2 separate regions of the Homo sapiens genome follow, and region 1 is linked to region 2. Evidence: fine-mapped expression QTL. Tissue or cell type: whole blood. Region 2 holds a variant in brackets; the other region holds the start of a gene. All regions are shown on one strand. Distances are from middle to middle.

Region 1 (2,760 bases), 63 kb after region 2:
GACGCAAACGCCAGCACCGCCACCCTGTCGCCCGCTGAGAGGATCTGGCCGCCGGGGGGAGGGGGCGGGGGGGGGGGCAGCGGGGGAACAACAAAAAAATCCCAGCATAATGATTATTCCCAGGGACCGTTGGGTTTTTTTTTCCCCAAGGCGGCCGAAAAAACAAGTGCTCCCCTTCCCCGGAAATGAGATGCACAGGGGTATTCATTCCATTCCGCGGCTGGGAAGCCCCTGCGGAAACGAGTCTGGCTGCATGTGCGGCCTCGGTCCCAGAAATCAAAAAGAGCGTCCCCTGAGCCCACAGCTTGCTCCTCCATGTGACCGGCCCCTGGGCTGGTGGCCACTGTGGACGCGCCCGGCGCCCCCTCTCCCGGCTCCCTGCGGGTTCCGCGGAGCCGCCGGCGCGCAGCCCGGCCAGGTGCACCCGGCACGGCCCCACTAACAGCGCGCGCCTCCAGCCGCCGGGCACTGGCGGCCACGCGGGCGAGATTTACGGTGGCGCTAGGCGGCGGCTTCCGAGGCCGGCCGGCGCCCAGGCTCCGATTACAGGTTCACACTGGGGGCCCGGCCGGCGGCCGCCCAGCCCCCGCCGGCGCGCCCTCGCGCGGCCCGGCTCCCCGCCTGCCCATTCTTCTCCATTCATGCGGACGCCCAGCGCCGCCGCCGCCGCCGCCAGCGCGGCCGCCGCCGTCGCCGTCGCCGGCCGCCCGGATTGGCTGGCGGCCGCGGCGCCGGCACTTTCCCACGGCCCGCGGCGCGTGCGGCTCACCGGAGGCGCTGCAGGCTCGGCCCTGGCGCGCGGCCAGGCCAATCGGGGCGCGCGGGGCGGGGAGGAGCCGCGGCCGCCGGCGGGCTTGTGTCCCGGCCCGGCCTCCCGCGCCTCCCCGCCGCCCGCGCCTCCTCCTTCCCCTGAGTGCAGGCTGGACAGAGCCCCCGCGGAGCCGACGCACCGCCGCCGGGCAGGGGCGGGCGCGGAGGGCGGGGGCGCGGTCCGCTAGAGCCCTCGGCCTCGCTCCCGCCCCTCCCCGGAGCGGCTGCCAATCAGCGGCGCGAGAAACCGGATTGGCCGGGGGGCGGCTGTTGCCCTGGAGTTGCCGCCCCGCCTCTCCGCCCCCTCGCCCGCCTTCCCCACTCCCCCGCCCTCCCCAGGGCCCTGGGAAGGGGCTCAGCGTGGGAAAGGATGGTTGAGTTTTAACCAGAGGCAAAGCGTGAGCGGGATCAGTGTGTGCGGAACGCAAGCAGCCGAGAGCGGAGAGGCGCCGCTGTAGTTAACTCCTCCCTGCCCGCCGCGCCGACCCTCCCCAGGAACCCCCAGGGAGCCAGCATGAAGCGAGCTCACCCCGAGTACAGCTCCTCGGACAGCGAGCTGGACGAGACCATCGAGGTGGAGAAGGAGAGTGCGGACGAGAATGGGTGAGCTGGCGGCGGCGGAGCGGAGCCGAGCCAGAGCGGGAGGCGAGCGCAGGCCTGCCGCGGTGACAGCGGGCTAGGACCCTTGGCGCGCCGGTGCCCTGCGCTGACCTCCGCGCGTCGCAGGCTGGCGGCAGCCTGCGGCCAGGGAACCCCTAGGTGCCTTCCAGCCCAAGTGGCAAAAAAAGTCTGAGTGCGGGGAGGGTGTGGGGGCGACCTCTCAGATCACCTCTCCTCGTTTAACGGCGATTTCAGTTTTTGTTTGTTCTTTTTCTCTTTTCAGAAACTTGAGTTCGGCTCTAGGTTCCATGTCCCCAACTACATCTTCCCAGATTTTGGCCAGAAAAAGACGGAGAGGAGTGAGTCTCTTTACACTCTCCTTTTATTTTTGTTATTGATTAACGGAAATAACCACCTTTTTTTTTGTCTTTGAAATTTACAGTCGTAATGGTAATGCCTTCCTTTGTTTTGCTTGCCTTCTGCAGATAATTGAGAAGCGCCGACGAGACCGGATCAATAACAGTTTGTCTGAGCTGAGAAGGCTGGTACCCAGTGCTTTTGAGAAGCAGGTAATGGAGCAAGTAGGTAAAGCTCTCAGCATAGCTATCTGCACCTTCTGAATCTTCCCCTCATTAATCTCATCCGCCTTGGAAAATAGCTGTGTTGCTTGTGCCTAGATGAATTCGTACACAGATACCAGCGTATTTTGTGAAGACAACTGATTTTGCTTTAGTCCATGCTTTACGATTTACAAAGCATGTATCTTTGTATATATGTTTGCATATTTTAAATTGTTCCCCAAAGGAACTTGTGCCAAATCAATCTTTTGCCATTCTCATCTTTAGGGATCTGCTAAGCTAGAAAAAGCCGAGATCCTGCAGATGACCGTGGATCACCTGAAAATGCTGCATACGGCAGGAGGGAAAGGTACATCTCCTAGACCTAGTGGGGGCTCTGAATGGTTGGCAAAGAGTGAGCAGCGGCTGAAGGCCAGGATTGGTGCAGTAGCTGCCTGATTTTTCTTTGGGGGTGGGGAGAGAACGGTGTGTGGTGTGTGCAGTTCCCTGTCAGTACATTTTCGAATGCACATAGAATCTTCTCCAGTGAATTCACCACCCCAGCTCTCTGCGGATTGAGCTAGTGCATCTTTTGGAAAAATACCTATTATTTGTGAGGTCTTCAAAAGTTGTGACAGCCCTGATTCAGATCAGGTAGCTTTCACATTTGTCCATTGCTATTTTGAGAAAAAGCATTTAAAAACAATATGTGGTCTTATTTTTGGTATACGGGATTTTAAAAAAAAGGTGCTGCCACATGCCTCTTGAGGAAAGAAATGTATTCTGGTTAAGT
Region 2 (2,760 bases):
AGAAGTTTCCTCCCCCCACCCCTGGCCTTTCCTGGTCGGCATCAGTGAGCTCAGGGTCTCCTTGCAAGGGGGCTGGGCTCTCTGACTAGAGGCATGCTGCTGACCTAGAGATAATTAACTGATAGTTTCTACCACGACCTGCTGACCCCTTTATAGGAACCACTGTAAAGATAAAAAGACTTTCTGTTTTCTTTTTTCTTAGCATCTCCGGTGCCTGAAACCTTCACAGTCATCATGCTATTTCGTGTTTATCATTAATCTTCCTGTTGAAAGCATCCCCTTTTCTCCCCTCTTGTTCCTGCCCTGGCCCATTTGCAGTTCAGGTGATCGACCCTCTCAGAAAATGCTCCCTGTGAAGCCAAAATGTGAGTGAGTTAGACTGGGCCATTTCCAGCACGCCCCTCGTCACCCCGTGCCTGTGCAGTGTCACCTACTTCTGATAACAGCCTTGGACTGAGGGCGCAGGAGAGAGTGGTTTTATGCCACAGATACTTCATTCGTCAATGCTGTCTTCCAAATCTTTCTCCTCATGTCCATTATCACAGGCCTAGAACAATTGTTTTTATTAGACAGTTTAATACATTGCCTCTTAGACCAGCAGGCGAACCCGAGCATCTTTCTGACTCCTGTGCTGTCATTAACATGCTTCTTAATTCAGAACAGCTGTTCCTCCTCCCACTCCTCCTCTCTCCCAATCTTTGCTCCTTAGACAAACTTTGCTTATTCAGAAACTTTGGGAAAAAAGATTTTTGAGTAAATGAGAGTTCTGGAAACATAAGGATTTGTCTCTTTCAGCATGGACTTTTTAATTTTAAACATTTTTGATGAAAATCTTTCCAAAATACATTGTTTAGTACCTTCTTAAACAGAGAAAATGGATGAAATTTAATTTTTTTCTTGATGCCTTGGGATCATGACAGTGAACAAGATTTTGTTACTCTGCTGCAATGCAATAGGGCACATAAAGGGTCCCAAATTTTCAGATTCTGAAGTTATTTTGAAAACTTTTAAATATACTCTCGTCTCCCTGCTTTTCATCAGTCCATTGACCAATCACTCTGGTTATCAATGCACCTATTTCCAGAAATTCTTCTACCCTAATTTTCTGATGTTCAGTGTTTACTGTGAGCATAGAAGACCAATATAGACACACACTTACACGTGTGTGCATGCAGATGTGCATTAGAACTGTGTGTAGAGAGGTTTGAGGAGGTACCTGAGAGTTTCCTATGAGTAAATGGAATATGTTATGAGTTCTCTGTTTTGGTTTTCCAGAGACTGCTTTTGTTAAATTTTTTGCTCATTTTAGGAATAGAAAGTTGCAAGACAAATGAGTTTAATAATGATGAAAAGCTCCCAGATTTCTAGGAGCTATCTATCTTTCTAGAAAGTTCTTCCTCGGTTCATTTTTTTTTTTTTTTTCACTTAATGCAAGTATAGGCAATGGTTACTAAAAGGAGATTCCTTTTATGAGAGGCTTGTCATTTCATTATCCCAACTTCACATACAAATGATTTCATTATCTTTAAAAATGTTGTCGTGATATTCTCAAACTATTGTCATTT[A/T]AAAAAAAAACCCACCAGGTGCAAAAACAAACTGCAACCACAACAGCTAAATCTGTCTCTTTCTCTCATTGTCCTCTTTGGCAAAGATCTGTGGAAAGCTGAATAAATGAACAGGGCCATTTGACAGAGTGTAACCCACACCAGACCTGTTGTGCAATGCCTTGAACGTAAGTCCTTTTCAACTAAACGGAGGTATATTTTCTTTTATATTGTTGACTTTGACCCTGAAGCTTAGCAAAGAACACTTGTGCAACATTTTCTGGATCAATTTATCATCTGCTCAGAGCAGACATGCATTTTTTCTCATCATTAAAGGGAAACCAAACCCATCAACATAATCCCCGATTCTGCTTTGTTTCTTCCCAGTCCTTCACATTGTAGATTCTGAAATATTAATGAAGAGATGTGAAAGTAATGTGCTCTATTCTCACACCCAGCCCCAGTGGGAGGAAGGATATGGCCAGGGAGTAGGAGAATGAGAAATGTCCTCGTTTTGCAAAACAACGTTGCTCAAAGTCAGGTTGTTGGATTCTATCTCTGAATATCCCAAGGTGGTGATCTAAAATCCAGATTTCTGGGCTAATCTATACCTATGGAATCAATATTTCTGGAGGATGAGGCTTTGTCATTTACATTTTAAATGGATGCATTTAAAACTGATTGGACTAGATGGTGTCCGAGCTTTTTCCTTACTTAACAAATCCTATGCTGCTGGCTCTTATGTGAATACTGATAATAAACTGCTTACAGGCTGGGCATCATGGATCATGCCTGTAATCCCAGCTATTTGGGAGGCCAAGGCAGGAGGATCGCTTGAGCTCAGGAGGTTGAGACCAGCTTGGGCAACATAGTGAGAACCTGTTTCTATGTAAAAAAATTAAATTTAAAAATGTACTTACAGAATACTCATAATGAACTTTATTATTGTAAGAATAATAACTTTTGACTGTATAGCAGCATTTTTAACTTTTCAAAGTGTTTTCCTATTTTCCTATATATAACCCCCCAGAGGGGGGCAGGGGAGGTCTCATTACCTCCATTTTAGAGATGTAATAAAGTCCCCGAAGCTTAATGACTTGTGCCAACTACATCATAACTTAGTGGTCAGGAGTCAGGACTGGCACACAGGTCTTCTGACCTCATTTCACTGTACATTTGGTGTTCTAAGATCCAAGACACAAGAGGATGCTTTATT

What was found. PIP is the estimated chance that this variant, and not a neighbour inherited with it, causes the effect.
Region 1: it holds the start of HEY1, and the variant in region 2 is fine-mapped to the expression of HEY1 in whole blood (INTERVAL, PIP above 0.99). The same link has a PIP of 0.9 or more in neutrophils.

The regions. Positions count from the first base shown.
Region 1 is chr8:79,766,228-79,768,987 of GRCh38, reverse strand. HEY1 (hes related family bHLH transcription factor with YRPW motif 1) reads left to right here and starts at 1,221. Exons shown (of 5, transcript NM_012258.4): 1 at 1,221-1,413; 2 at 1,694-1,769; 3 at 1,896-1,979; 4 at 2,256-2,337. The coding sequence starts at 1,325. LINC01607 (long intergenic non-protein coding RNA 1607) reads right to left here and starts at 846. Exons shown (of 4, transcript NR_125410.1): 1 at 770-846. RefSeq lists silencers at 49-218, 319-678, 719-1,198 and an enhancer at 1,649-1,698.
Region 2 is chr8:79,829,473-79,832,232 of GRCh38, reverse strand. All of the region lies in intron 2 of LOC101927040 (a long non-coding RNA gene), which reads left to right. Among named protein-coding and RNA genes, the nearest start is that of LINC01607, 63 kb to the right of the region's middle. The variant A/T (reference allele first, on the strand shown) is at 1,566.